2 linked regions of the Homo sapiens genome follow. The protein of the gene in region 2 interacts with the protein of the main gene of each other region in a biochemical or structural test. Each region holds a gene or a part of one and is shown on either strand. Other genes may lie near its edges. The genes, in order: F10 and CAMP.

Evidence for each region.
Region 1: the proteins of CAMP (region 2) and F10 interact in a test that uses a peptide from one of them, tested with the Homo sapiens proteins (one study listed by BioGRID).

The regions. Positions count from the first base shown.
Region 1 is NC_000013.11:113,120,730-113,136,121, forward strand, and holds the start of F10 (coagulation factor X isoform 1 preproprotein), read left to right. Parts: upstream 1-2,069; 5' UTR 2,070-2,126; coding exon 2,127-2,196; intron 2,197-7,425; exon of another isoform or gene 7,426-7,696; intron 7,697-8,005; exon of another isoform or gene 8,006-8,148; intron 8,149-8,722; coding exon 8,723-8,883; intron 8,884-9,276; exon of another isoform or gene 9,277-9,317; intron 9,318-15,392. UniProt on the Homo sapiens protein: Factor Xa is a vitamin K-dependent glycoprotein that converts prothrombin to thrombin in the presence of factor Va, calcium and phospholipid during blood clotting.
Region 2 is NC_000003.12:48,215,017-48,230,488, reverse strand, and holds CAMP (cathelicidin antimicrobial peptide preproprotein), read right to left. Parts: upstream 6,995-15,472; 5' UTR 6,978-6,994; coding exon 6,777-6,977; intron 6,136-6,776; coding exon 6,028-6,135; intron 5,887-6,027; coding exon 5,815-5,886; intron 5,197-5,814; coding exon 5,065-5,196; 3' UTR 5,004-5,064; downstream 1-5,003. UniProt on the Homo sapiens protein: Antimicrobial protein that is an integral component of the innate immune system. Binds to bacterial lipopolysaccharides (LPS). Acts via neutrophil N-formyl peptide receptors to enhance the release of CXCL2.

The sequences.
Region 1 (15,392 bases), on a different chromosome or scaffold from region 2:
CAGACCAGCTGACCCGCCAAGCCCAGCATGGTTAGTGTCAGGACCTCTGCTGAAGATGCTTGCTGACCCTGGCCAGACCCCGGTTCCTAATGCCCCCTAAACGGGACGGGAGCCAGTGGCGGGCCCTGATCCAGGTCAGAGCTGGCTCTGCTTTCTCTTTTGTCCGAGTGACCATGCCTCAGTTTCCTCATGTGTAAAACAGGAGCCCACCGTGATGCTTATGGTGGGATGAGATCAGCATGGATGGAACAAGGCCCTGGAAGGGCCCATGCCATGGTCATCGACAGCAAAGCCACTCTGCAGACAGATGCTTCAGTGAATTGGTAGAAAATTCTGCAACCAGAATGCCCGGGGCTCCTGAGGGCCTAAGCCCAGCCCAGGGTTCTGGAAGCCACTCTGACTTCTTGGGAGTGGAAGTTGGCAGGACTCTTCCTGGGAAGAAGCGGAGGGTGGGGATGAGAGGACAGTTCAGGAGCCCACCCAGACCCACAGGAGGAAACTAGGGGAGTCATGCGGGGTCCTGGTGGAGCGCCAGCCTCCCTTCCTGCCAATGGGAAATGCAGGCGCCCACCTCATGGTGCTGCCGGAGGAGGGGGCCCGGGACTCCCCAGAGGCTTCGCTGAAGGGCCTGGGCGCCCCCAAAGGCTACATGTTTCATATGGGACGTGCCACCTGCCACGGCTCAGCTCCAGCTTTCTGTGAGTGGCGAGATAGAATACGGGGAGGCCACTGGCCATGGGCCTGGGACAGGGTGGGATGAGGCGGCAGGCTTGGGCCACCAAAGCCAGCATCGCCACCCAGCATTGATGACAAAGACTGCGTGTCTGCCATGAGCATCCTGCTGTTGGTGCACACACCGCATTGGTCTCTCCATACAAACATGCCTAGAGGCGATGTCAGAGGGTGGAGACCAGGAGAGGCAGGAGTCAGACATCTGGTGCCACCAGGAAGGCCCTTCTCAGAGGACCAGGCTGTGCGTGGTGCCCGCCGTGGGAGGCCAGCCTGGCGTTGGCATCCAGCATCATCAGTTTGTGCAGTCGGGTGGGGCTCAGTGAGTGCCTCCTGTGTGCCAGGCACAATGACGCACAATGTGTGCACACCAGGCTCATGTGCAGGTGGCTGCGAGACAGGGCGACCCATCAAGGCAGATGCACCATGAGGCAGTGGCCAGTGCTGTGGGTGTTAGGGGCATTGCTCCCCGGCCACTACGGCATAGCAGGCAGTGATCGCCACACTGGCCAAGCTTTAGACCATTTATTCCAGAGACCCCAGAGGCAAAAAGCCCGGCTGCACCTCCCAGTGACTCCCACAGCCATTGAGCAGAGACACTCAGGACCTTGTGATGGGAGGTTTCTGCACTGGAGAACGAGCCCAGAAGCCCTCTCAGCCTCGGAACAGTGTGGCCAGTGGTGGGCAGGTCAGGAGGGGCTTCAGACACAGCCTGTCCCTCCAGATGGTCACGGGAAGGTCACTCCCCACAGAAGTACGTTTTGGGGCCATGCGGGCACAGAAGGTTTGGGGGTGGGTGGGGCAGGTGCCAGCCTGGCCTGTGGGAGGCCATGGTGCAGATGCCAAGCCCCCCCCGTGACATGAGACCACCTGATACCACCCAGAGAGTGGCTGTGAGCGGAAGGGCCCGCCCAGAAACAAGCAGGGCCTTGGGGCAGAAGTCCTGGGCTCAGATCCCACGCTCACTGCCAGCGGCCTCGGCTCAGGCTTCTGCGCTCTCTAAACTTAGTTTTCTCTTCTGGAAAAATGATGGGGAAAATGATATTTGTATGTGAGGACTGAGAGTTAAATGTAAACATCTGGAAACTACAAAATGAGCACGAAATGATGTTTTTATTCTTAGAACAGAAAGTCCCCACACCCGCGGCCCTGGTGACTGATGAGGATGAGGTTCTGCGGGGCCTCTCTGGCCGCCCAGCTCTGCCTGGGGAAGGTGGGGCCAGAGTGGATGTGTTCCCAGCGTGGTCACTCCCCTGCCTCGCCAGCAGGTCTCGGCTCCAATCAGGAGGCCTAAGCCAAGTGATAAGCAGCCAGACAACAGCCATCCCAGCTGGGGCGTGGACTTTGCTCCAGCAGCCTGTCCCAGTGAGGACAGGGACACAGTACTCGGCCACACCATGGGGCGCCCACTGCACCTCGTCCTGCTCAGTGCCTCCCTGGCTGGCCTCCTGCTGCTCGGGGAAAGTCGTAAGTGCCCCTCGCCCTTCAGACCCAAAAGCAGCGCCAGGGAGCAGGGAGGGGCGGCAGTTGGGGAAACCCTCTCATCTCTGCAGCCTGGACGGTGGGTGCCTTGAGTGCTGCCAGAGGCTGGGCTCGGATGGCTGGGCTTGGCCTTTCCAGCCAACGGCATCCTCAAGGCCAGCTGTGGCTCCCTGGGGCTGAGAGTCAGACGGGCGGATCAGAGGTCACAGAGACAAAAACACAAGGACAGAGTCAGAGAGAGAAAGGGAGAGGGAAGGAGAAACGGAGACACAGTGAGATGGGAGGCCAAGAGGCAGAGACAGAGGTAGAAAGACGGAGACAGAGAGAGAGGGAGGGGTTGGGGCAGGCAGAGACAGGACAGTTAGCCATCTGCCACCACAGGGAGGCACAGGACGAGGGGCACAGCAGAGGAGCTCCCAGGGAGGAGGAGGCTGAGCCGAGCCAGTGCCACCACTCTCGGACTGGCTCCGTCGGGGAAGGAGCTGCCTAATGCACAGCTGGACAGGTGGGGGCAGCAGGGCTGTCCAGGACCCCCGGGTCTGTCCAAAAGCAGAGGCCCAGACAGGACAGAAGCCAGGCAAGCCTGGGGACAGCGGAGGAAGAGGAGGCCCCTCTGGTGGGGACACGAGAGACAGGGACCCTAGACTTGTTTGCATCCTGGACAAAGTGGACAGGCAGGGGCACCAAGGGGACCCAGGCCTGGGAAGGGAATGTGTGAGGGAGAGACGGAGCAGGGGGAGACCCTCGTGGGGTGGAAAGGGGAGACCCCTGGGAAGGCTGAGTGGATCCTCAGTGCATCACTGACCTAAACGGCCCCTCCGCCTGGTGACTTGGAGCTCCAGTCACATCACACGGGGGTCTTCTCCATCCCACCCTCAACCCCCTGCCCTCCCCAGCCTCTGTCCCCTGAGCCACATCTTCCTGTCTCCCACGCGGAACGGGACTCCCGTCTTCATGGGGTACTGTGTGGCTCCAACTCGCCCAGCCTTCTTCCTCCCCCTCAGGCCACACTGCCCCCTGCAGGAGCCCACTGTGATGCTTGTGGTGGGATGAGATCAGCGTGGGTGGAACAAGGCCCTGGAAGGACCCATGCCATCATCATCGACAGCAAAGCTACTCTGCAAACAGACAGATGCTTCCGCGAATTGGTAGAAAATTCTGCAGCCGGAATGCTCTAGGATCCTGAGGCCCTAAGCCCGGCCCGGGGCTCCCGAGGCCCTAAGCCCGGCCCGGGACTCTGGAAGCTGCTCTGGCTTATTGGGAATGGAAGTTGGCAGGACTCCTCTTCCTGGGAAGAAGCAGAGGGTGGGGATGAGAAGACAGGCCAGGAGCCCACCCAGACCCACAGGAGGAAACTAGGGGAGTTATGCAGAGTCCTGGTGGAGCGCCAGCTTCCCTTCCTGCCAATGGGAAATGCAGGCGCCCACCTCGCGGACCTCTGGGTCCACAGGGTATTGGCACCCTTAGCTGTGTGATGCGGGCCTGGCTCATAACCATGGCCTGTGGTGTCCCCGGGGGCCGGCCTGGACCCTGGGTGGACATGGCCAGCCCCGGAGAGCCAGGGCCAGGCCATCTCTCTCCCCTACTCTGCCTCAGAGGCCTCGGCAGCTGCACTGTGGGGTGGGTGGGGCTGAACACAGGTCCCAGAAGGTCCCACTCAGGACCCTGCTGTGCACACTTTTGATTTTAATAAAATCAGAATGCGCACAGCATCTGCAGTCTAGCCTTTAAACGAGCACAGCTGTCCTGGCAGTCACGGAAGTTCTTCTGGGGCGGTGGGACCTCAGCATTCCTTTGCTGGTACTGCTACAAGAAAGGACAATGGACCAAGTAGCTTAAAGCAACAGAAACATTTCTCCCACAGCTCTGGAGGCTGGAAGTTCAAAATCAAGGCGTCAGCGGGGCTGGTTCCTCCAGAGGCTGGGAGAGAGTCTGCTCTAGGCCTGTTTCCTGGCCTCGGGGTGCCAGCGGCCTCACAGCCCATGGCTTGTGGGAGCATTGCTCCCATCGCTGCCTCCATCATCGCATGGGGTTCTCACCATGGCTGTTTTTCTGTCTTCTTTTCTCTCAGAAGGACACCAGTCATTGGATTTAGGGCTCACTCTACTCCCATAAAATGTCTTCCTAACTAAATACATCACAAAAGTTCTATTTCCAATTAAGGTCAGGTTCTGAGGTTCTGGGAAAGACATGAATTTGGAGGGACATTATTCAGCCCTGTCCTGCCACCTGTGAGTGTTTTCTGCAATCCAACTTTTTATTTTAATAAAATCAGAATACGCAGAGCACCTGCAGTGCCAGCCTTTAAACTACTGCTGTTGTACTGGCAATCATTAAAGCTACGTGGCTTCAGTTTCAATCTTTACATTCAACAAGTTTAAACCCATTCTTCATGAGTTTGGACCTTACTGACTGAAAATTTTGCTTGCTGGTAAAACTTGCTCAAATGCAGTTGCTGACTGTGGAATTCACTGATGTTGCCAAAACAACAAACACAACTGTGTGCTCGAGGATTGCAATGCTCCCAACAGCTTCTGAAGAAACAAACCACACGACAAATGTCTACCAATCTGGATGCTCCATATCAGAGTTCTAGAGTGTTCCATTAATTTCTTGAGACAAGTGCCTAAAAACCTTGTTTTAATTTCGTTTTGCCAAAATCCCATTTTACTCACATCAGAAAGTGTGGCCACGTGGCCCAGACCCGGCCTGCTCAGTCTGACTGAAGCGTTGATGCGACTCAGCCATAACAGATAGCAGAAGCGCCCAGATTCAGTCCAGAGGGCTGAGCCAGGCACGCCATCTTTCCTTCATTCCCTCAACACATATTGGTTAAGTTCCGGCCGTGCTAGGCACGGGCATACAGCTGTGACCAAACACGTCAAGTCTTTTTCCAGCGGAGGGAAGGATAAGCCTGTCAGCATGTAATGTCAGAGAGGGGTTGGGTGCTAGAAGACAAATAGCACAGTGTAAGGGGATGAAAGAGACACGAGTGGGGGCAACGTCAGAGGGCGTGGTCAGGGAGGGTGTCTCGGAGGGCGCTGGGCCTGAGCCACTTGGGTATCTGTGGAAAGAATGTTCCAGACAGGGAGGTGACTGGTGCAAAAGTCCTGGGGTGTGAGTGTTGGGCTCAGCCAGGGTCAGCGCAGAGCCCAGTGTGGCAGAGAGAGGTGAATGAGGGCAGAGTTGAAGGTGGTGAGGCCTGGGAGGCCTGGCCATGGGAAGACCCTGGGCTCTGTTCTAAGACCACTAGAGGCAGATTCTGGGTAGTCCTTGACTTCCTTGCATCACCCTTTCCACCCCGTGCCTGCCACCTGTACCCTCTTCCTCACACAGTCCAGCTCAACCTTATAGGCCGTGTCCTACCCCCATGAGCTGGGGAGAGCTGAGCAGGCTTCAGGGAGATGGGAAAAGGCGGGAACTGGACAGGGGCTGCAAAGGAAAGGTGACTTCTTACTGGTCAATCAGCCTGGGGATGCTCGGGGGTGGATGCCAAGGGGAACAGAGCTGTGGCCGCTATCACAGAACAGCGAGTTCCTCTAAGAGGTCAGAGGAGGCGCAAGGGATCGACCAGAGACAGTGAGGGCGTCAGGCTCCAGTTGAGTGGGGACCAATCCTTGTGGCAAGTCTGTGAACCATCACTGTGGCTCTAGGGTAGCAGAGAAAAAAGCAGGCATATGTCCATCTGGCCACAAGGAAGGAGACCAAGGGGAAGAGAGAAGGTACCAAGAGAGGTGTTCACATGGAGGTGCGTCAGAACACCGAGGGCAAGGCAGAACGCGGTCTTCAGACCCCAACTGGAGCCCAGGAGGCCCGCGAGTCCCAGTTTGGGAAACACTAAGCCAGGCTTGGATAACTTGTCTGAGGCTGTGGTCATCCCAACATGAGAGCCAGAGGCCCCAAGGGAGATGGGCATTCCCCACCCCTCAGCTTCCTCAGTGCCTTTTGTGGAGTGGAGGTGACATGAGGCTGCAGGTTGCAGGGAGCCACGTGTGGGCTGCATTTCAGAGCAAGTGTGTGGGAGTGGAGCAGACACGCAGAGTAATGGGGCAGGGTCAAGAAATAATAAATCTAAGTCTAGCGTTGGTGGGATAATGTCGGTGTCACTAAAAGAAATGGGGAATTTGGAAGGTAAAGTAACTGGAGGTAGGAATGAACCCAAGATTTACTAAGCACCTTCTGTATACCAAACTCAACACTAGGAGTTTATACAATCTTTAAAACAGCTCTAAGAGTAGATATTATAATTCCCTTCTGCCAATAATAAATAATAAGTGACTAAGGTGTTTTTGAAGCTCAAGATTGCTTGATTCTGCAGTCTTGTTTTAAATTTTGGACATGGAGAGTTTGGAGTTCTGAGATGAGGGAAGGCATCTGTCATAGTGAGAGAGCTGAAAACATGGAGCTCAGGACAAAAGTCAGTGCTAGAGAGATCAGTTGGAAGAGTTATCTTTATTGTAGTGAGACATTGAATTTTTCAGTGGAAAAAAAGCACAGAAAAAGACTACAGAGGGCCAAGAAAAGAAACTGAGGCTGTCAAAATGAAAAGAGGAGGAGGAGTGGGTGAGAGACAAAGGAGACACAGGCAGAGAGATGTGGACAGCACAGCCCACAGACACACACTCTACAAGGGACACAGACTCTCGGATCCAGGGCATTTTAACCAGCAGATCAAGACTCATTTGCCAGTCATGAAATCAACTCAGTATTTTTTTTTAAAAGAGTAGAATCAAATAGAAAACTTTGTACTAAGTACTGTATTTTAGGAAATACTAATAAATACTATTTCTTGAAAGTTGGCATGTATGTGTGTCCTGGCACTTCATAAATTGTACTATTATAGTTTGTAATTGAAACAGCATCACCAATCCCCACATAACAAAGAGCAGAGACCTTAAAGACGAGTGGGGCCAGGCTGAAGGGGCACAGCTTGAGCCAAAGCACAGAACAGTGGGCTGAAAGCACCCTAGGGAGGGAGAATTCAAGGAAGGGGGCTTGGGTGGCCAGGCTGAGCCAGCGTGAGCATGTGAGGAGGCTGGTGAGCTGATTGGGTGGGATGTGTCTACTTCTCCAGAGAAGGGTGCATGGGTCTAGAGCAGGTGCCTCATGCTGTACCTCATAGAGAACTGGGGGGAGGGGGGAAATGGGCATTTCCCTCCACAGCCCCCAAAGTGCCTGAGGAAAGTGTTGATAAAGAAGCCAAACTCTGTAAAATATTTGAAGAGATTTATTCTGAGCCAAATGTGAGGACCACGACCCATGACACAGCCTTGGAAGGTCCTGAGAACATGTGTCCAAGGTAGTTGGGTCACAGCTTGATTTTATGTATTTTAGGGGGACAGAAGTTACATACAGACACCAATCAATAAGCATAAGTTGTACACTGGTTCGTTCCAGAAAAGGGGAAGGTGGGGGCTTCCAGGTCATAGGTGGCTTCAAAGATATTCTGATTGGCAATCAGTTGAAAGAGTTATTATCTAAAGACCTGGAATAAATGGAAAGGAGTATCTGGGTTAAGATAAGAGGTTGTGGAGACCAAGGTTCTTGTTATGTAGATGAAGACTCATAGGTGGCCACCCTTAGAGGGAATAGATGGCAACTGTTTCCTCTTCAGACCTTTAAAAGGTGCTACACACATGGCCAGGCGCCTTGGCTCATCCTGTAATCCCAGCACTTTGGGAGGCTGAGGCAGGTGGATCACTTAAGGTCAGGAGTTCAAGACCAGCCTGGCCAACATGGTGAAACTCCATCTCTACTAAAAATACAAAAATTAGCCGGGTGTGGTGGTGCTTGCCTGTAGTTTCAGCTACTCGGGAGGCTGAGACAGTAGAATCTCCTCCTGAGGCAGGACAATGGCTTGAACCTGGGAGGCAGATGTTGCAGTGAGCTGAGATTGTGCCATTGCACTCCAGCCTGGATGACAGAGCAAAACACCATCTTAAAGAGAAAAAAAAAAAAAAAAAAAAAAAAAGGTGCTAGACTCTCAGCTCAGAAAAAGACCTGGAATGGTAAGGGGGTTCTCTACAGAATGTGGATTTCCCTGAGATAGCTTTGCAGGGCCATTTCAAAATATGTCAAACAAATACAATTTGGAGTAAAATCATTTATTTTAGGGCCTGCTATATGTCATGTGATCCTATACTAGAGAAGTCAGGTTGGAAACTGGTATCTTATTGCTACAAAGACTCTGTTTGGTCAGCCTCAAGGTCTCTTAACGTGAATGCTGGTCAGCTGTGCCCGAATTCCAAAGGAAGAAATAATGAGGCGTGTGGGACCTGCTTCCCCTCATGGCCTCAACTAGTCTTTCAGGTTCCTATGGAATTCCCTTGGCAGAGAGGACGGGTCCACTCAGTGAGTTGGGGGCTTAGAATTTTATTTTTGGTTTACAAGAGAGTGATCCGCCTTTTGTGATCTGGATATGGCAAGGGACATGGCAGTCAGGGAGCATAGGTGAGGGGGAGCCTGGGTGAGGGTGACCAGAGCTTTTAACCCTGTCCTCCCTGCCTTCCAGTGTTCATCCGCAGGGAGCAGGCCAACAACATCCTGGCGAGGGTCACGAGGGCCAATTCCTTTCTTGAAGAGATGAAGAAAGGACACCTCGAAAGAGAGTGCATGGAAGAGACCTGCTCATACGAAGAGGCCCGCGAGGTCTTTGAGGACAGCGACAAGACGGTAAGGGCTGGGGATAGCCTGGCTGTTGGTAAGGAGCTCAGGCCACAGCGCCCTCGCTGGCCCCGCTGCTCCGTCCATCCAGGGGGGCGGCCTGGAGGAAGGGGCAGCGTGCGCGAAGGCTTTCAGGGGCGGGGCCCAGCAAATCGAGGCCTCGGCGGAGTCCTGCCCACAGGGACATCAGTGCCGCCCCCGCGCTGACTCCTTCCCGGCGAGGACTCAGCGGGGAGGGATGCGCCCAAGTCCCTTGAGGGTCACAGGGCTTCTGCCAGAGTTAAGTTCTATTTAAAAATAAAATGTTAACCTAAAAACCAATAGTCATGGTCTCGGCCAGCGCCTCGCCGAGTTGCAGTGAGCTGAGATCGTGCCCTCCCACGCCCGCAGCCCGCGTCCTGCCTTGGCCTCCGTAGTCGCTGAGAGCCACAGCCTAGAGCGCCAGCGCGCAGGCGCACAACTGACGCCAGGCCACGAACCCAGTACTGCTCCTGCACAGCAGAAGCACTAGCACTGAGGCCGGGCGGCGAACCCGGCACTGCGCCTGCGCAGCAAAAGGACACGCACTGAGGCCAGGCCGCGAACCCAGCACGGTGCCTGCGCAGCAGGAAGACCGGCATCCACACCGGACGACGAACCCAGCATCGCGCCTGCGCAGTAGGAGGAGAGCAATGCCACCAGGCCGCGATTGCGCAGCCGCAGCAGCCCCGCGCGGAAGACGCTACCCTCCTCTCCCCCGAAGAGGCGGGGCTTCGAACGAACCTGGAAATGGCCGAGGGGTCTCGACTTCCTCACCCCAGGCATCAGGAAAGGTGCCTGCAGGACAGGGCTCTGAAGTGGAAGTGGGCGGTGGTGATGCCGAACTGACAAGAATGAGCTGAAGAGAAGAAAGTAGCCGAGAAGGGGGCCAAGCCGGAGCTCAGTGAGCAACAGCTAGGCCAGCCGCGGCTGGTGCCATCAGCCACACCACTAACTGTGGACCCAAATGGAAACTTTGAGGCCCCTTACAGGTCCCCCAGCGCAGGCCACCGCCGAAGGTTACTGGGGAAGACCCCTGCAGCTTCCATGTGGACATTACTCGCTTGCTTCATCCCGGAGTGCAGTCACCTGCAGCCTGGGACCACCTGACTGATGTCACCCTGGAGATCCATGCCAAAAGAGCTGGGGAAAGTTCACCTTCTAATGACCCCTGCGGACCAGGGTGAAGTTACAAGTTATGGCCAGGTCAAGGAATTATAAGTCAATAAATAAACTGCCTCAGGGAGACGTACTCAGAGTCCAGGAAAATCTAGGAAACACCAAGAAGGGCGAGCGCAGCATCAGCCCCTGCAAAATTGCACTGCTGCCTCCTGGCTCACATGTTGCCCCATCCTTACTTTAGCCTCAAAGGCAAGGAGACCCAATATTATTTGAGTACTTGGATTTGATCCTGAGTGACTTTCTGAGAAAGCAGTGTATCATCTGCCCTAAGATCACCACATATATGACAAGGTTTTTGGATGAGTTGAGATTTCTAGACATTGAAACCCTCATGATGAACGTCATCCCGGGTAGCAGGGGCTAAGCCTTTCATCACCTGCTACAACAAGCTGGACATTAACTTGTATTTGAGAATTGCTCCAGGACTCTACCTTCAGATGCTGGTTAGTAGCATTGACTGGATTTATGAAATTGGATGCCAGTTAAGGAATAAGAGAATGTATTTGATTTGCCACCCTATATGGTCTGTGCAGACTGTCATGATCTCATTGAAATCCAAGAAAAGATTATGTCAGGGATGAAGCACATCACAGGTGGTTACAAGGTCACCCACCATCCAGATGGCTCAGAAAGCCAAACCTATGGGTTGACTTCTCCTCACCCTTCTGGAGAATCAGTGTGGTAGAAGAGCTTGAAAAAGTGCTGGGTGTGACGCTGCCAGAAACTAACCTCTTTGGAACTGAAGAAACTCAAAAAATTATTGGTGATATCTATGTAACAAAAGCTTTTGAAAGTCTTCTACCTCAGAACATATTCAGGCGCCTTGATAAACTTGTCAAGGAGTTCCTGAAAGTGACTTACATCAGTCCCACATTTATCTGTTATCACCTGCAGATAATGAGCTCTTTGACCAAATGATCTCTCTAAGAGGGTCTCACTGAGCACTTTGAGCTATTTGTCATGAAGATAGCTGAATGTTTCCATGCAGCAACAGCAGCAGCTGTTGACAAACAAGACAAGGCCAGCAAAGATGATGAGGCCACATTCATAGATGAAAGCTTCCATGCAACCCTGGAATATGGGCTTCCGCCCACAGCTGGTTGGAGCGTGACAATCAAATGTGTTACCATGTTTCTCACAGACTCCCACAACATCAAGGAAATATTTCTGACTCCTGGCATGAAACTTGAAGAAAGAGAATGTAGCAGCCACTAATACAATGGAAAGCGCAACATTGACACGTCTATCTAGAAAATTTTAATTGTCTAAGTTGTGTGACTCAGATATCTTTGCATTTCTGCAAAAGATCAAGGTCTACTCTAATTCTTAATTAAATTAAGAATTCCTTTTTATTACTTGTTAGCAAATAAATGGCTTGTCTCTAACAGAAAAAATTTAGAATTTTCGGAAATATTTTCAAATACTTCTTATATATACATATATTTTTTTCCACTGGTAGAATTTTTCTTTAGTAAAAGTAAATAATGCTGATCCAAGTTTATGTTTCACTCAGCATCGTTTCTCAAACACTCTTCTTTACTTATATATAGCTACCCTATAGCTAAGCTATATTTTATTGTATGATGCATTTACTCTTTTCAGAGTTTGGCCATATAAGTTATTTCTAAATATTGCTATTAGGAAAACACATATGCATGCATTTCTTCTAGATTATCATCTAAGAGTGGCTTCTCCAGAGAGAGACGACTGAATTAAAGGTTATCAACAAGTTCCAATTCCAGATAAGATGAAGAAATCACATTCCACACTGCCTCTCCCACTGAGTGTAGCTCCAAAACATGGATAGAATGCATGTAGCAGCTATTTGACGACCCTAAAAAGTAAATCGCAGTGTATTGCAGAATAAGACTACAATTAGATGTATGATATGATACAACTGGCTGTGAGTTTATCATTTTTTCCTCCAGTCTTCCAGACATCACTTGACCTGAATCTAATGGACATTTATAGGATTCTCAACAATAGCAAAGTACACTTTCCTTCCACATATGGAAAATTCCTCAAGGTAGACTATATCCTGTGTCTTAAAGCATACCTCAATAAAAAGATTGAACTCACATAAAGTATGTTTTCTGACCATAATGGAATTAAAGTAAAAATTACTAACAGAAAAATAACTGGAAACTTCCCTAAGTACTCGGAAATTAAGTCACACATGTATAAATAATCTGTGAGTCAAAGAGAAAATTTTAAGGGGAGTAAGAAAGTATTTTGAGCTGAACAAAAATGAATATGTAACATAAAATCTGTGGGATGCAGCTAAAAAAGCAGTGTTTCAAGGGAAATTTATAGCATTAAATGCTCACATGGGAAAAGAAAGACGGTCTCAAATTGTTTATGTAAGCTTCCACTTTAATAAACTAGAAAAAAAGAAAAAAATAAACCAAAAGGAAATTGAAAAAGCAGAAATCAAAGAAATTTAAAACAAAAATAATAGACAAAATTAATAAGCTGATGAAACTCAAACAAGACTGACAGGAATAAAAACAAACAAACAAAAACAAGAAAAAGGACCTATGTTGGAAATGGAAGAGAGGGGACATCACTACAGAAACTGTAGATGTTAAATGTATAATAAGAAAATACTTTGAACAACTCTGCATATATAAATTTGCATGAGATTTGAACTTGGATGAAATGAGCCTATTCTTCAATACCACAAGCCACCAAAACATACACAAGGTGAAAGAGATACCTGCCAATTCAATTCTTAATTTAAAACCTTCTGAAAAAGTAATGTTCAGGTACAGATGGTTTCACTGGTAGAATTTTACCAAACATTTCAAAAAGAACACCAATTCTATACAACTCTTCCAGAACATAGAAGAGGGAACACTTCTTAGTTTGTCTTAGGCCAGCATTACCCTGATGTCAAAACCAGACAAATACTGAAAACAAAAACCACCCTACGTAACAATATCTCTCATGAATCTAGACATAAAAATCCTCAACAAAATATTAGCAAACGGTGCAGCAATATATTTTTAAAAGAGTAATAATACACCATGACCAAGTGAGTTTTTCTGGGGCACACATGACTGGCTCAATATTTAAAAATAATTATGTAATCCACCATATAAACAAAAGAGAACATCCACATAATCATGTCAATTGATGCAACAAACAAATCTGGCAAAATTTAACATCCATTTATGATTTTATAAAAAACCTATCAGCAGAATATGAATAGGAGGGAATTTTATGAACATAATAAAGTTCATCTACAAAGAGTCTACAGTTGATATTATACTTAAAGGTGAAAACTGAAGGTTTTCTCCCTGAGACTGGAACAACACAAGAATGTCCATTCCCAACACTCCTAATTCAACATTATACTGGAAGTCCTAGCTCTAAGGAAGGCCTTCAGTAAGTCAAGAAAAAGAAATAAAGTTATCACTATTTGAAGATGACATGATCATGCATATAGAAAATCCTAAAGAATGTGAAGGGGAAAAAAGCTTGTTTTAGTCCCTTCTCACGCTGCTGTGAAGAACTACCCGAGACTGGGTAATTTATAAAGGAAAAAAGGTTTAATTGACTCAGTTCTACATGTCTAAGGAGACCTCAGTAAACTTACAATCATGGCAGAAAAGGAAGCAAACGTGCTCTTCTTCACATGGCTGTAGGAGGGAGAAGAATGAGAGCCGAGCAAAAGGGGAATCCTCTTAAAAAAAATCAGATCTCATGAGAACATACTCCCACGAGAACAGCATGGAGGAACCACCCTCACGATTCAGTTACCTCCCACTTGGTCCCTCTCACTACACATGGGGATTATGGGAACTACAATTCAAGATGAGATTTGGGTGGGGACAGAGCCAAACCATATCAATGCTCCTAAAATTTGCAAATGAGTGTAACAAGGTCACAGAATACAAGGTCAGCACATGTGTTAATCACATTTTTATGTAATAGCAATGCACAGTTATTTGTAAGCCAAAAATTTTTAAATGCCATTTACAATTGCTTCAAAGAAAATTATATACTTATATGTAAAGCTAATAAAACATATACAGGATCTTTATCCCAAAATCTACAAAATTCCAATGAAAGTATTTAAACAGACCTAAATAAATAGAGACACATACAGTGTTCATGGATTGAAAGACTCAACATATTAAGATATCAATTTTCGGCCGGGCGCGGTGGCTCATGCCTGTAATCCCAGCACTTTGGGAGACCGAGGTGGGTGGATCACCTAAGGTCGGGAGTTCGAGACCAGCCTGGCCAACATGGTGAAACCCCGTCTCTACTAAAAAAATACAAAAATTAGCTGGGCGTGGTGGTGTGCGCCTGTAATCCCAGCTACTCGGGAGGCTGAGGCAGGAGAATCACTTGAACCTGGGAGGTGAAGGTTGCAGTGAGCCAAGATCAAGCCATTGCACTCCAGCCTGGGCAACAAGAGCGAAACTCTGTCTCCAAAAAAAAAAAAACAAAAGAAAAGAAAGAATTGTCTTTTTCAACAAATTATATTAGTCTCAGTCTGTTTGTGCTTCTATAACAAAATAGATCAGACTGGGTAAATTATAAACAGAATAAGGTTATTGCTCACAGTTATGGAGGCTGGGAAGTCCTCCAAGATCAAGAAACCAGCAGATATGGGGCCTGATGAGGGCCTGGTCTCTGCTTCCAAGACGGTGCCTCATGGCTGTATCCTCACCTGACAGAAGGCAGAAGCACAGAAGGGACAAACACTGTGTGAAGCCTCTTTTATAAGGACATTAATCCTATTCACAAGGGCAGAGCCTTCATGGCCTAATCACCTCCTAAAGATCTCACCCTTAATACTATTACATTGTCGATTAAATTTTAACATATGTATGGGGGGCATGTTGAGACCATAGCAGTGTTGGAACAATTATATATTTATATGCAAAAAAATGAACCTGACCTAAACTTCACAATTATACAAAAATTAACACAATATAGATAATAGATCCAAACATAAAATACAAAACTATAAAACTTTTAGGAGAAAATACAACAAAATTTATGACATGGAGCTAGGCAAAAATTCTTAGACATTGACACCAAAAGAATGATTAATAAAAGAAAAAAGTCATAAATTGGACTTTATCAAAATTAAAACCTTTTGCACTTCAGAAATAAACACTGTTAAGAGGATGAAAATACAAGCTACAAACTAAGAGAAAATATTTGCAAATCACATATCCAACAAAGGAATCATATTCGGAATATATAAAGAAATCTTAACAGATCAGAAGAAGAAAATAAACACTCAGTTAAACAAAAGACCTTAACAGCCAACTCGCCAAAGAGGATATATGGATAGAAAA
Region 2 (15,472 bases):
CCCCAGGGGTTCCCAGACAATACCTGGAGAACAGCTGCTCTATGCTGTAGACCAAGGGGCAGAATGGCTGGTTCACAGGTGTACATATATTCATATTTATTAGGTACTTCCAAATGGCTCCCCAGGATGGCTCCACCCTCCACAACTTTATCAATGCTCAGGATTGTCAAGGCTTTTTAATGTGTCTTAATTTTTAAAAAAATTTTTTAGAGATGGGGGTCTCGCTATGTTACCCAGGCTGTTCTAAAACTCCCGAGCTCAAGTGATCTTCCTGCCTCAGCCTCCCAAGTAGCTGGGACTACAAACACATATTACCATGCTTGGCATGTGTCTTGATTTTATAATCAGAAAATAGAACAGTATTTAAAAAATATGTCAGGCTGGGCGCGGTGGCTCATGCCTGTAATCCCAGCACTTTGGGAGGCAGAGGCGGGTAGATCACGAGGTCAGGAGATTTCCATCCTGGTTAACACAGTGAAACCTCATCTCTACTAAAAATACAAAAAATCATCTGGGTGTGGTGGCAGGCACCTGTAGTCCCAGCTACTCAGGAGGCTGAGGCAGGAGAAGGGCGTGAACCCAGGAGGCGGAGCTTGCAGTGAGCCGAGATGGCGCCACTGCACTCCAGCCTGGGCGAGAGTGCGAGACTCCATCTCAAAAAAAAAAAAAAATATGTCGGGGTTGGGAAATAATTATTTCAATAAAAGGTGCTGGGTCAATTAGATATCCGTATGAAAAAAGAAAAAAAGAAACTTGATCTCTACCTCACATCATCAACAGAGGTGATCTCACCAACATAATATGAAGAGAGAGAAGCCAGGAAAAAGAATATGTATCATATCATTCCACTTATTTAAAGTTCAAAATCAAGTCTGGGCGTTGTGGCTCACGCTTGTAATCACAGCACTTTGGGAGGCCAAGGCGGGCGGTTCACCCAAAGTCATGAGTTCAAGACCAGCCTGACCAACATGGAGAAACCCCGTCTCCACTAAAAATACAAAATTAGGTCGGGAACGGCGGCTCACACCTGTAATCCCAGCACTTTGAGAGGTCAAGGTGGGTGGATCATGAGGTCAGGAGATCAAGACCATCCTGGCTAATACGATGAAACTCTGTCTCTACTAAAAATGCAAAAAATTAGCCAGGTGTGATGGCACGCGCCTGTAGTCCCAGCTACTTTGGAGACTGAGGCAGGAGAATTGCTTGAACCTGGGAGGCTGAGGTTGCAGTAAGCCCACACTGCACCACTGCACTCCAGCCTGGGCAACAGAGCGAGACTCTGTCTCAAAAAAAAAAAAAAAAATTAGCCAGCGTGGTGGTGCATGCCTGTAATCCTAGCTACTCGGGAGGCTGAGGCGGGAGAATCACTTGAACCCAAGAGGCGGAGGTTGCAGTGAGCCGAGATCGCCCCATTACACTCCAGCATGGGCAACAAGAGTGAAACTCCATCTCAAAAAAAAATAAAAAATAAAAATAAAAAATAAAATAAATAAAGTTCAAAATCAGGTAAAACTAGTCTGCATGCTAAAAATCAAGATACTGGGCCGGGCGTGGTAGCTCACGCCTGTAATCCCAGCACTTTGGGAGGCCGAGGTGGGTAGATCACTTGAACTCAGGAGTTTGAGACCAGCCTGGGCAACATGGTGAAACCTTGTCTCTACTAAAAATACAAAAAATAAGCCGGGCGTGGTAGTGCACACCTGTGGTTCTGGCTACTCGGGAGGCTGAAGTGGGAGGATTGCATGAGCCTGGGAGGTGGAGGTTGCAGTGAGCCAAGATCCTGCCACTGCACTCCAGCCTGGGTAACAGAGTGAGACCCCATCTCAAAAAATAAATAAATAAATAAAATGAAATCAGAAGATTAAAATGACTATAATAGCAATGAATGTATAATATTAAAATCCAAGGCCAGGTGCAGTGGCTCACACCTGTAATCCTAGCACTTTGGGAGGCTGAGGCAGGCGGATCATGAGGTCAGGAGTTCAAGACCAGCCTGCTCAACATGGTGAAACCCCATCTCTACTAAAAATACAAAAATTAGCTGAGTGCGTGGCGGGCACCTGTAATCCCAGCTACTCTGGAGGCTGAGGCAGGAGAACTGCTTGAACCCGGGAGGCAGAGGTTGCAGCGAGCCGAGATCACGCCACTGCACTCCAGCCTGGGTGACAGAGCAAGAGTCCGTCTTGAAAAAAAAAATCCAGCCTGGATTATATCTATCTGGTTCATGACGAGGGCCATCTCATTAACGCCCATGTAGACTATCAAAGAGCAAGGCAGGGCAGGGGTAATAAGAGGGTTGTCACGGTAGCAGGATGGATAATCATGGGAGGAAACTGGAAATAGATGCAGTCGGCACAGGCTCTTGGTATCCTTGTGAGTGACCCCTCCCTCAGTTTGGGCAGTGGTGTGACAGCTGGGGTTGGGGATGCTGCTTTGCAGCATTTGCAGATTTCCATGGTGTAAATACTGCCTCCCACCATGGCCAATTTTAAGCCGCCAAGAATTTAACACCGAGCTCAAAAAAGTCCTGAAAATTTAGGCCGGGCGCAGTCGCTCATGCCTGTAATCCCAGCACTTTGGGAGGTCAAGGCAGGCAGATCACAAGGTCAGGAGATCGAGACCATCCTGGCTAACACAGTGAAACCCCGTCTCTACTAAATATACAAAAAATTAGCCAGGAGTGGTGGCAGGCGCCTGTAGTCCCAGCTACTCGGGAGGCTGAGGCAGGAGAATGGTGTGAACCCGGGAGGCGGAGCTTGCAGTGAGCCGAAATCACGCCACTGCACTCCATCCTGGGTGACAGAGAGAGACTCCGTCTCAAAAAAAAAAATTCCTGAAAATTTAACAATTGGCTCTGACACAGCATATGCCCCTGAGTTTCCTCCCTAGAACTCTCTCTAGCACTCTGTAATGATACAGAGTGAGAAGCATCTACCTCCTCCAACCTGCTTGAAATCAGCCACACCTGCTCGTCATGAAGAAGCAAGCATGGGCAGGGCACAGTGGCTCACGCTTTGGGAATTGAGGCAAGAAGATCGCTTGAGCTCAGGAATTCAAGACCAGCCTGGGTAACATAGTGAGACCCCATCTCAAAAAAGAAAAGAAGAAGCAAGCATAACAGAAAACAAAGCAAGTGTTCTTGTGAGGTTTTGCCTTCTCTTCCTCTCAGAGAGGGATGCCTGTGTCTTAGTTTAGGTTGGCCTGGAAGCAGACCTGAGTTAAGGATTTAAGTGAGAGTAGTGTATTTGGGAAGCAACTACAGAAAGCACCTGCAGGAGTGTAGAGAAGTGAGACAGGGAACGAACAAGTCAGAAGAGGATGTGGTCATGAACAGGTCTTTGTTGAGGGTAGCCCACCTGGGGACCTCTGGGAGATGTGAAACACACCTCTGAGTGTGCCCCCCACGGGTGAGAAGAACAAATATTTTTCCACCAGCTCCCACCTATCATTGGTTGAGGCTGCTCCCTGGCGCATAGACTTCCCAGTACTTCCAGTTGAGCAACCCCATAGCAAAAAGCTGCAGGTGCTTCTAGTGGCTACAGAATGGTGAGTGGGGAGAACACGATCCATGTCTGAAACACCAGCACAACAGAGTCGCGACCTGTGTGTCACACTCTGCATGTCTCTTCTAGCCACAGCACCTCACTCCACTGAGCAGGATTCTCCTTTTTTTGTTTGTTTGCTTGTTTTAGAGACGAGGTCTCACTCCTTTGCCCAGGCTGGAGTGAACTAGCATGATCATAGCTCACTGCAGCCTTGAACTCCTGGGCTCAAGTGACCCTCCCACCTGAGCCTCCCAAGTACCTGGGATTACAGGTGTGCACCACCACACCCAACATATTCTTGGTCTTTGGTTTTTATTTTATTTTATTTTATTTTTTTGAGATGGAGTTTCGCTCTTGTTGCCCAGCTGGAGTGCAGTGGCACGATCTTGGCTCACCACAACCTCCGCCTCCTGTTCAGGCGATTCTCCTGCCTCAGCCTTTCCAAGTAGCTGGGATTACAGGCATGTGCCACCATGCCTGGCTAATTTTTGCCACTTTAGTAGAGACAGGGTTTCTCCATGTTGGTCAGGCTGGTCTCAAACTCCCAACCTCAGGTGATCAACCAGCCTCAGCCTCCTAAAGTGCTGGGATTACAGGCATGAGCCACCACGCCTGGCAGGTTTTTGGTTTTTATGAGCCCAGTCACCTTTGTTTCACCCTGTCACCCAGGCTGGAGTGCAGTGGCGCAATCTCAGCTCACTGCAACCTCTGCCTTCCAGGCTCAAGCAATCCTCCCACCTCAGCCTCCCGAGTAGCTGGGACTACAGGCACGCACCACCATGCCCAGCTCATTTTTGTATTTTTAGTAGAGACAGGGTTTGTTATGTTGCCCAGGCTGGTCTCAAACTCTTGACCTCAAGCAATCCACCCGCCTCGCTTCCCAAAGTCCTGGCATTACAGGTGTGAGCCACCACGTCTGGCCATATTCTTGTTTTTAACAATCCCTAAACACAAGCTCACAAGTTAAATCTGCTACCCACCTGAAGAAACTGTGATGTGTCCCAATGCCAGAGGAAATGCCAGGAGTTATGGGCTTTCCTGAGTTAAGTCTTTTAGGAAGCATTGGAATTTTATGGGAATTGTACCTGCAGGGAGACCGCACCCAGTTGGCCAGCCACCCATGGGACTGGACCATGCTTCTCTGAGTGTTAACAACACGCTTGGCCCCTCCCTTGAATGTCACCTCCCCATGAGCAGGAACAGCTCCACAGCATTCCCCCACCACCACACACAGAGTAGAGCTCCTTAATTCCCCACTGGGGGTTCCACTGAGAATGGGAATGCCATCTTGGATCTCTTGGCCCTACTGCCTTACCCTGTGTCCTCCTGGATGGAACACTGCCCTCGCCACCTCTGTGTCACACTCACACACACTCACACTCACACGTGGACTCCCTGAGCTAAGGGCTCAGTTGTGGTGAGAGAGAGGAGGCAAAACAAGTGAGACTGAAGCCTGAGGAAATTGCTCTCATAGTTTATTTCTCAGAGCCCAGAAGCCTGAGCCAGGGTAGGGCACACACTAGGACTCTGTCCTGGGTACAAGATTCCGCAAAAAATCCTTGATTCTCTGGACAATTCTTTTAAACTCTTTGCCAATCTTCTCTTTAGATTTCCGGAAGAAATCACCCAGCAGGGCAAATCTCTTGTTATCCTGGGGTTGTGTACAGGAAGAAACAGGTTCCTTGTCGGGGATGTACCCAGGGTCAATCCAAGACCCCTCCCCACCTAGACGCCCCTCTTCGTGGGCCCCCGCAGGAGCTTTGGGGCCCCAGTTCAACCTCTGGCTGTGACCTTTGAAGCATGTGATTGAATCCCTACACCCAATAAAAAGATGAGAAAACAGAGTCCCGGAGATAGTGAGGGGCTCTGCAGGGTCACACAGCCCAGCCCAGCAACACTGAGATGGGAACACAGGGCTGAGAGCTGAGTACTCTTAGACAGTGGCTCTCAAACTTTACAGAAGCCGGAATCTCCTGGAAAGCTTATCAAAATACGAATTTCTGGGCCCTACCCAGAGTCTGTCTGAGTAGGTCTGAGTAGGGCCTGAGAATTTGCATATCTAACGAGTCCCCAGGAAGGGCTACACTTGGAGATCTACCGCTCTAAGGGATTCCAGAGCCGGCCCTGGAGATGGAACTCAGGTTTGGGGAAGAGCCCTGGGTAGGAGGGGCTTTCTCTGTCCTGGGTTGGGGGAGTAGTTAATTGACCCATTGGATGGTCCACACTCTATGCCCCCATCAGCCCCTGCATCCCAGAACAGCCCACTCACCTTATCACAACTGATGTCAAAGGAGCCCCTGGCCTGGTTGAGGGTCACTGTCCCCATACACCGCTTCACCAGCTGGAAAGGAGAAGCTCAAGGTCAAACTTGAAACCATTTGCCATGACCTCCCAGCCACATCCCAGTGGGAAATATTCCCCAGGTGCCCCCTGTTCAGCTCCTTGGGAGGCACCCACCAACACCCCCAGCCCCCAGCCTCACCCCGTCCTTCTTGAAGTCACAATCCTCTGGTGACTGCTGTGTCGTCCTGGGGCACACTGTCTCCTTCACTGTGAAGCTCACAGGCTTTGGCGTGTCTGGGTCCCCATCCTAGTCAGAGGAGGAAATGGGGAGGCCCATTCTTGTATTTTCTGATTTGTGTCCATGACCTCCCCACCAAGAGGGCAGGCTTTCCACAGTACCTGATGTGCGACGGGCACTGGGTGCTGGGCTTGGCACTGGGGCATTGAGGGGAGGAGGACTGAGCCATTCCTACCCTCCTAGGTGAACAGTGAGTAGGAGCAGACCTCAGATGAGCTCTAACAAGGAGCCCCTCCCACTCTGGGGTGGGGGCAAGGGAAGTCAGGGGGCTTCCTGGGGGACAAGACATGCCCACTGGAACCTAAAGTCTGGATAGAGTTCTTCCCTATGTGGGGTAACGTGGTACAGAAGAGACTTAAAGCAGAGGAGGTCACTGCCCAGAGCCAATGACCCCATTCTAGTGCCTGGAGCTCGCAGAAGTCCCAAAACCTGCGTGGGGTCGGGGTGAGGGTATCTCTGCCACAGCAGGAATTATAAGGCAGGAAGCTCTCGAGCTGGGAGGAGACACGAGCTCTAGAAGGTTCCCTGGAAAACACGGGACCACATTTAAAGGGGGAGATGCCCTCCTGGCAGGCAGTGCAGCAGGAGCAGAAGGAACAACACGTGGCCAAGCCCAGCCAGAGCAGAGCAGAATGTCCCCCAAAGCTCACCATCGTGGGCCTGGGGTCCAGGTCCAGGAGGCGGTAGAGGTTAGCATCCGAGGACCGCTGGTTGATGCCATCTATAGCACGAAGCACAGCTTCCTTGTAGCTGAGGACCTGGGCAATGATGGCCAGAGGCATCACCAGGCCCAGCAGCAGGAGCACCAGTGACCACCGCCCCAGGGAGTGGCCATCCCTTTGGGTCTTCATGGTCCCCATGTCTGCCTCCCTCTAGCCCACAGGAGCCTCCTTTATGCCCAGCCTGAGCCTGATGCAAAAGCCCAACCAGGAGCCTTCCTGATCCACCCATCCCTGGCTGCCTGCCAGGGTGTGGGCTGGGGTTTGCTTTAGCCCCTGGCTATTGCTTCACAGGACTTGCTGGGCAGTGAGTGAGGCCTTCCTTGTGTGCAAGATGAGGAAGTGGTTTCTTCATCTCTGACAACCTCCCAGACCTGACCGGAGATTGTCATAGCCAGGGGTGCTCAAGAGCGTTAAATCCCTCCAGAGAGGAAGAGAGCCAGGTGCCTATTCTACATCCTTCTACTCCTCAGGAGTCAGTATGATGGACTGCTAAATCTCCAGCTCTAGGCATTGCCTGGCACCCTGTAGGCATCGATTAAGAATTGATGAATGAGGCAGGGCACGGTGGCTCACGCCTATAATCCCAGCACTTTGGGAGGCCAAGGTGGGCGGATCACCTGAGATAAGGAGTTCGAGACAAGCTTGGCCAACATGGTGAAACCCCATCTCTACTAAAAATATGAAAATTAGCCACGCATGATGGCTCACACCTGTAGTCCCAGCTACAAGCTGAGGCATGAGAATCACTTGAACCCATTGAACCCGGGAAGCAGAAGTTGCAGTTAGCTGAGATCATGCCACTGCACTCCAGCCTGGGTAACAGAGTGAGACTCAGTATGAAAAAAAAAAAAAAGAACTGGTAAATGAAGACAGTAGCCACCCCCAACCTAGAGACTCACTCTTGCAAGGGACAAGTTGCCCTTTCAGTTCAAGGCCATACCACATGCTCTCTGGACCCAGCCGTCAGCCAGACGAAGGCTCTGCTCCATCTATCCCCTTCTGCATCCTTCTTCACTGTTTTTTTCAGTCTCAAAATGTTCCCAAGCCCCTCCAGACATGGCCTTTCACCATGGCTTCTCCCAAGCCAAGTCTTAGGAAAGGTTGTCTACGCTTCTTGACCCCATCTTTTCACTCTTCTTCATGCTGAAGGCCACTGAAGGCTGGCCAACCCACCCTTGGTCCATGGCCACCCTCAAGCCTGGTCTTTGTCTGCACAGGCACTGGTGAGCCTTCCTTCTTGCTGCCCCGGTCTCCCCTGATGCCACTCTCCTGCTGTCCCTCCTGCCTCCCTGGTGGCTCCTTCTTGGTCTCCCCTAAGGGCTGTCTTCTTAATATTGAGAGCGTGTGGGGTCACCTCCTGGGCTGCTTCTCTTCCCTGGCCTCGGGTTTCCCTGGGGACGCCCTCTCCCAGGACACCAGTTATAATAGGCAGACACCACCCAGTCTGTATCTCTGAGTTCGAGACTCCCATGAACGTCCCGGTTGTCCCCACTGGGCCTCCTTGACTGCTCTTCTGCTGAGTGCCCACTGCATGAGCCCTGAAGCACCTTTGGCTCCTTCCTCCCGAAAGCACTCCCCTCTGGCCTCTCCTTCCACCCCTGCCTGGCTCCTGCCGCCATCTTCTCTCCCATGCAATGCTGCCCCAGCCTCCAGACTCCACCTTCTCTAGGTTTCAGGCTCTCCCCAGACCACAGTCCACCCTCCACACCGTTGTCCAGGGGTTCCTTTAAACCACCAATTTGGCCATTTCAACCCTCTACCTTCAGGAGCCCACACACCCCCTAGGCTGGCATCAGGGCCTGTGGCCTTTTGGTTCCCACTGCCCTCACCCCAGCCCTGCACACTGCAAGTGCCAGACTGTCACGTATGCCCCCATCACATAGGCTCATCTGAGCCTCCTGCTCTTTCTCCCAGCTCTGCCCCGATCCTTCTGTTTGGCCTGCCCTTTCACCTCATGAAGCTTTCCCTGACCTCCAACCAGGCACAGCAATCTCCTCTTTGCCCCTACATCTTCCAGGAAGTCTCTCCTGATTCGACCTCAAATTACTCCCTGTTTGGTGCTCTAGCTGAGACACCAAGCTGGGATGGGTGGCTGGTGTTGGGAGAGGGAGAGATCACAGCCAGGAGAGATAAAGGGCCAAAGTGATAGAGGGGTCCAGCGTCCATGAGGCAAATTCCGGTCCCAGCTCCTCTGTGGACTGGCCATGTGGCCCTGAGGCCTGGGGTACCTCTTGACCTCAGTTGGCCTGTGGGACACTTGGGGGCTTGGACAGCAGGGCTCCTGGAAGGTGGAAGCCTGGACGAAGGCCACCGGTTGCACACCTGGCCTTGAGAGAAGGAAGAAGTGGGCTTCTGTGCAACCTGGTTTCACAGTTCAAGTGTTGCCCCAGTGGCCTGTTGGTCAAGCAGGGCTTGCACATCAGGTCTTTTATGGCTGTTGGGAAAAGGGCCATCCAGGGATATCAGACCTCTCAGGGCTCTCCTGCTTCCTCCACCCTTCTGACTGGCTTCAGGATCCCCAAGAAGCCAAACCGGGGAGAAGCAGATGGCAATGTTAGTCCTTAGGCTAGGGCGTGAGAGCTGCATGCTCCTGTGTTCCTCTAGGTCAGATCTGGCATATTCAGAGCCCCTTTCCAACTGCCTCAAGAGGACGTTCCACTTCGGCCAGTGCTGGACACGCCCTCACATGAAATCAGCCAGAGCCCAAGCAGCTTGCATAGGCCCTCTGATACAACTGCAGAAGTCTGGACTCAGGGGCACTTGCTTTCCCTCTCAGGGCCATCGCACAAGGTCCAGGCTTCCCAGGTTCCAGGAGTGAGTCCTGCCCTCGGCACATGCAGGTCGGTGTCCACTACCTGAGGTAGGGCGGCTGACTTCAGACCTTTAGAACCCATGGCTGCCCCTTCCTCCTAGAGAGGGAGAAAGGAGGCTCTCACCAGCTCGCCTTTTTCATAATGGCTCACCCCATTAATAGAGTGATCAGAAGATTCTAGGCAAGGCGGAATGAGAAAAGAAAAGTGAGGCTTAGCCGGGCGCGGTGGCTCACGCCCGTAATCCCAGCACTTTGGAAGGCCGAGGTGGCCTGATCATGAGGTCAGGAGATTGAGACCATCCTGGCTAACACAGTGAAACCCCGTCTCTAGCTGGGTGTGGTGGCATGCGCCTGTAGTCCCAGCTACTTGGGAGGCTGAGGCAGGAGAATGGTGTGAACCCAGGAGGCGGAGCTTGCAGTGAGCTGAGATGGCGCCACTGCACTCCAGCCTGGGCAAGAGTGTAAGACTCCGTCTCAAAAAAAAAAAAAAAGTTAGGCTTTTCCACATCAAGACTTGAGGGCTAGATAAATGTCCCTTCACAAAGGCCTGGGCAGCCCCTGTCCCTCTGTCTCTCTATCTCTCTCTCTTTCCTCTCTCTCTCTGAATCTCCCACCCTGACTTCTCTAAGTGGCCCCTTCCTCTCCTGCAGACCCAGGAGGCTCCAACTCCTACACAATGTGATCAGGGAACCTGGTGCACTGGGACTGCTGAAGGCTCTGAGAGACTTTCCACAGATGAGCAGATGCTGGAGCTACCCTCTCCCACTCCACAATCCCTCCCCCATTGGCGAACAAAGCCCAGCTTAGCCCCCACTCTGCGTTCCCTCTCTGGCTCCGTGTCTGCAGCCCTGGTTGTCCTGGTGGAAGCACCCACCTCCTCAGGCCTGCTTGCCCCTGAGACAGCCTTCATCAGAATGGCCAACTTGTCTGAAAAGTAGAGAACCAAGCAGGCAGTTTGTTCATCCCCTTGGGGAGCACTGGGGAGGGAGTCCTGGGATGGGAATCCCAGGAACCATATTCGTCACCAGCCTCTGTCTCTGTGGGTGAGTCACTGTCCCTGTCCCTCCCTGTGCCCAGAATCTATAGTCAGCACAGAAAGCCCAGGGCTTTGCAGGCAAAGAGCCCAGGTTCCCTCATGAGGCTGACTGGGTTCCTGGCTCAGCCCTGCTGCGACCAGCTGTGTATCTGCATACCGATGTGTCTGCTCTCCTGCCTCCTCATCTGTAGAACAGGGATGATCATCACAATGTCTAGTTTGTAGAATTGTTGTGAGGGTCAAATACAACATGGTCTGTGGCCAGTACATGTGAATTGTTTTTGTTGTTATTAATGTGACCTGTTAGGTTAATGCTTCAGAAGTAAACATAGTGTGCTCCCAGAGATAGTAACTTTGTTGGCCAAGCATGGTGCTTCAGGACAGGAGTTCGAGACCAGCCTGGGCAACAGAGCGAGGCCCTGTCTCTACAAAAAAATTTTAAAATTAGCTGGGCATGGTGGTGTGCACCTGTGGTCCCAGCTACTTGGGAGGCTAAGGTGGGAGGATTGCTTGAGCCCAGAAGATGGAGGCTACCGTGAGCTGTGATCATGCCACTGTATCCAGTCAGGGCAACAGAGCAAGACCCTGACTCAAAAATAGAAAATTGGGGTGACTCAGGCCAAGAGCTAACTTCTGGTAAATTGCCTCCCTCCCTGAACCTTTCTCGTGCAAAAATTGGGACAGTAGCCCCAACCTTGTAGACAGCAATGCATTGGAGCAATGTATTGAATATATACTCAAAGGCAGACGTTTCCTTCCCTAAACCTGGGGCATGGGGCAGGGTATGCTTATACCCTGTGGCAGACAGGGAATGCCAATCACAGGTTCTGCCCAGACTCAGGACAAGTTCCTCCTTCTGCCTTTCTTTCACTTGCAGAATTGTATTGCCAAGAGACCTGGGGTGGAGGGTCTCAAGCACCGTCGATTACTAGCTGTGTGACTTCGAGCAAGTTGCCTTGTTTTCTTGATAATGTTCTCATATTTGTAGGATGGGAATGAGATGCCCTGCAGTGTTTGTTCAAATGCAACAGTGAGTAAGCAAGTGCATGTCCACTGTCAAGTCCTGTACTCCCGGGATGTTTTGGCAAGTGAGGTCAGGGTCAGGTCTCCTTACTTGGCAATGGCCTTAGCCCAACTCTTCCCCAACAAGATACATATGCACGCATGAAACTGTGCATATGTATCTTGTTGGGGAACTGTGCTCCCCTTCTTGCTAATAACATAACCTACTACCCCAGGCCCCTGTCATATTTTGGCTCAGACTCAGCCTCTCCAGGTTGTCCCCTGGATTTCAGCCCCCAGTTGGCATCCTCTGTGATGCGTCCCCCACCAACACCAGGCTAGGAGACAGCTCACCAACCCCACCTTTAGTCTCAGGCTGTGTTTATCCATCAGGCTAGTCCCAGGGGTAAGACCACAGTTGTCCTCAGACAAGAGTCATGAAGCCCTGGGATGCCCCTTAGACAAGGCTTCCCCAAGTTCTCCTTCTGTCCAGGCTCCTGATTATGGGGCTGCATCTCCTTCCCAGGCCAAGGGCTTCCCAAGTGTGACAGTCTTGTCTGTCCCTCAGACAGGGACTCCCAAGGGCAAGCCCCTGCATTCCCTTCAGCCCACAGACTCCCTAAGGTCAGGATTCCTTTCCTCACTGGGCCCCTCTCAGAATCGGCATTGGGCTCTGCCCTCAGAGGGCCCAGATGGGTAAGAGCCGCTCCCAGCAGGTCCAGACCCAAGTTCAGAAATCATTTGTCAAATGAAACACTACACAGCACGGGATAGTGATAGGCAGTTTCCAGTAAATGTGCCTTTGTTTCCTAGACTGATTCATAAGAAGGGCCTGGGACATGGTGTCCGGGGGTGGAGGCTCTGCCCAGCCATAAAGGAAAGACCTGGATATTGGATATACCACTCAGAGGAACCCGCTGTCGTCCTTTGCAGGGGAGAGGGACGGTCAAACCACAGCATGGTTTCTCCTGGGAAAGGCCAAGGCACTTGTAGGTAATCACATGCTGTCTTGTCCAGGAATACCAACCCAGAGCCAGGGGCCCATTGCACAATCCAGTTTTCTCAACCCTACATTGCCACCAATGAGGAAGACAAGGCCTTGAGCTTCTTGCCAGGTGACCGTGTCCTTAGCGCTTCCCCAGCTCCCAGCCTGTCTCCTTGTCAGCAATCCATAAACCCTGTGCAGCTCCAGCACTCCTGTGCCTCCAGTGGCCAGAGACTGTGTGCCAGGCCTCCTGCTGTTCACCCCCTGCTTAGTGACCCTCATATTCACTCCGATGGACTCTTTGCTTCCTCCTTCTTTGGCTCCTCCCTGACCTGAGCCCTGACCAGGTTCCCTCTCACTGCTCCCTGTTCATCAGAACTTGCTCACTTCTACTTGAATGCATTAGCCAGTATGGTAGCCATAAGCACAAGTGGCAATTCAATTTCAATTCAAATTAATTGAACTTAATTAAAATTAAAAAGGCGGCTGGGCACAGTGGCTCACGTCTGTAATCCCAGCAATTTGGGAGGCCGAGGCAGGTGGATCATCTGAGGTCAGGAGTTCAAGACCAGCCTGACCAACATGGTGAAACCCCATCTCTACTAAAAATACAAAAATTAGCTGGGTGTGGTGGTGCATGCCTATAATCCCAGCTACTTGGGAGGCTGAGGCAGGAGAATCTCTTGAACCCAGGAGGCGGAGGTTGCAGTGAGCCGAGATCGTGCCACTGCACTTCAGCCTGGGTGACAGAGAGAGACTCCGTCTCAAAAAATAAGTAAATAAATAACAACAACAAAAAACAATTATTCTGTCACACTACCCCCATTTCAATTGCTCAACAGTCAGTTACAGTGGATGTCTCAGATATAGAACATTTCCTTGATCACAGAAAGTTCTATTGGACAATGCTGAGTTAGACAAAGAAGTGTGGCTGGAGGTGGGGAACTGGAAGGAGAGAAGATCCTGTGACAACCCTGGGTGGGAAGGGCCAGCTTTGTCCCTGTGACATGCTGTCTTTTTCCAAATGTTTCAGAAGCACCTGCTTGACAATGCCTCCAAAGAAAAAGCTCGCTGTATGGGAGACAACAGTGAGAAGTGGGCCATCCTCCAGCAGGGAGCTGACTGGAGAAGGCCTTGGATGCCATGGCTGCAGGGAAGCAGCTCTGCAAGGGTGCATAGTAGGCCCTCCTCGGGTGGCGGTTTTATTATAGGAGCATCACTCAGGCTGCACTGAGAAAGGGGTGCAGTTTCTGGGAGCCCCAGAATCATGGCTTGTGGGGATCCATCCTCCACTATCTCTCAGTTTAGAACCTCTCTTCCCCAAGGTGACTGGGGAACAGATCCTTCCCTTGCCTTGTGGGCGAGGTTAGGAGCCTGTGGCCAAGGATGGTGAGATGCTAAGAGCCGTGGAGGCCAGGTACCAGATGCCAGGTGCTATTTCTGAGCTGAGATGTGCAGCCCAAATTACCTCCTCTCCAACCTGAGGTCACAGAGGGTTTCAGGGGCCACCTCCTGAATACTCCAGTCCTCTCTCTTTCTGGATGCAGATTCTGAGGACTTGAATGGGGAGAGACCTGAGCCAAGGTCTCCAAATGGGTTCTGGGCACATGTCCAGCCATTTCTAATGCTGTTCATAGAGTGTGTAACCTCAGCAGTTGACCTTTCCAGGATCTGAGTGCCTTCGGGGCTGCATATGCGAAAAAGACTTAGGGAGTTAGTCAAGGATTAGGCCAACACAGAGCTGCAGGAACAAGTGACCGCCCAAGAGGCTGCTGCCTCTTTTGTGTGCCTGTACTCTTTTGTGTGCCAATATGAGAACATTTGTTTCCTTTCCCCGAAGAAGGGTTGCAGGAGAGGCAGGCTGGCTTCATCAGAGTGCGGGGAGAGGGTGAGAGCCCCCAGGAGAAACTGGATAAGGCTGATGAGCCAGTTGATGACGAAAATGAGGGCCACAGATAAATCACTTGAACAAGGACCCCTATCCAGAAAACGGCAGAACCAGGACTTGGACTCAATGCCCCCACCCACCAACCTTGCTGTCCTTCTCATGGGGACATGTGGAAGAATTCAAGCCCTGCCTCCTGCCCTCTGCAGCAAACTGGAAATGCAGATGTGGGCTGCCATGAGGGTGGAAATATGGGACAGGGTGAGTGTCAGGACCGTCTGCTAAGGCTCAGTTCCCTCTTTCCCACTTACTACTTCATGTGACACAAGTTGCGTGGAGGAAAGCCAAGAAGTTAAGTAATCATTACAACCCCTTCAGCCAGGCTGGAATTTTCCAGGCACCACACTGGAGCCCCCTGAGTAAATGGCCATGACCTGAACTCGTTCTTTTCCCCAACAGCAAGTGAAGAACTGCCGGGGGTACTTCAGTGCTGCTGAGGACCCCAAGAAGTTGCCCATCTGTGAATCCCAAAACTTTGCTGGGGTGAGCAAATCCCTGGAGAAGGAGTGGAGGGCAGAGGAGTGGGTCCAGAAGCCAGAACTTCAGGCTGGGAGGTTCAGAGCAAAGGGCAAGGGCTGGAGGGCTGGACTGCCACATGCTGGACAGGTCTTTTGGGGACCTCTATACTCATCTCAGCCCTGAGGAGTCTCCTGAGAGACTGACTACATGGCTGCGAGCCAAGCCATTGCTCTACTTAGTGCCGTTTGCAAGCCTCTTTACCACCCTGAGCCTTGATCTCCACAGAGCAGGAGGGTTCCCATCCTTGTTGGTCCACTAGAATCACTTGGGAAAAATGTGTAAGCTCAGGCCACAACCTCACAGTTCAGTTTGTCGTGGCATGGGG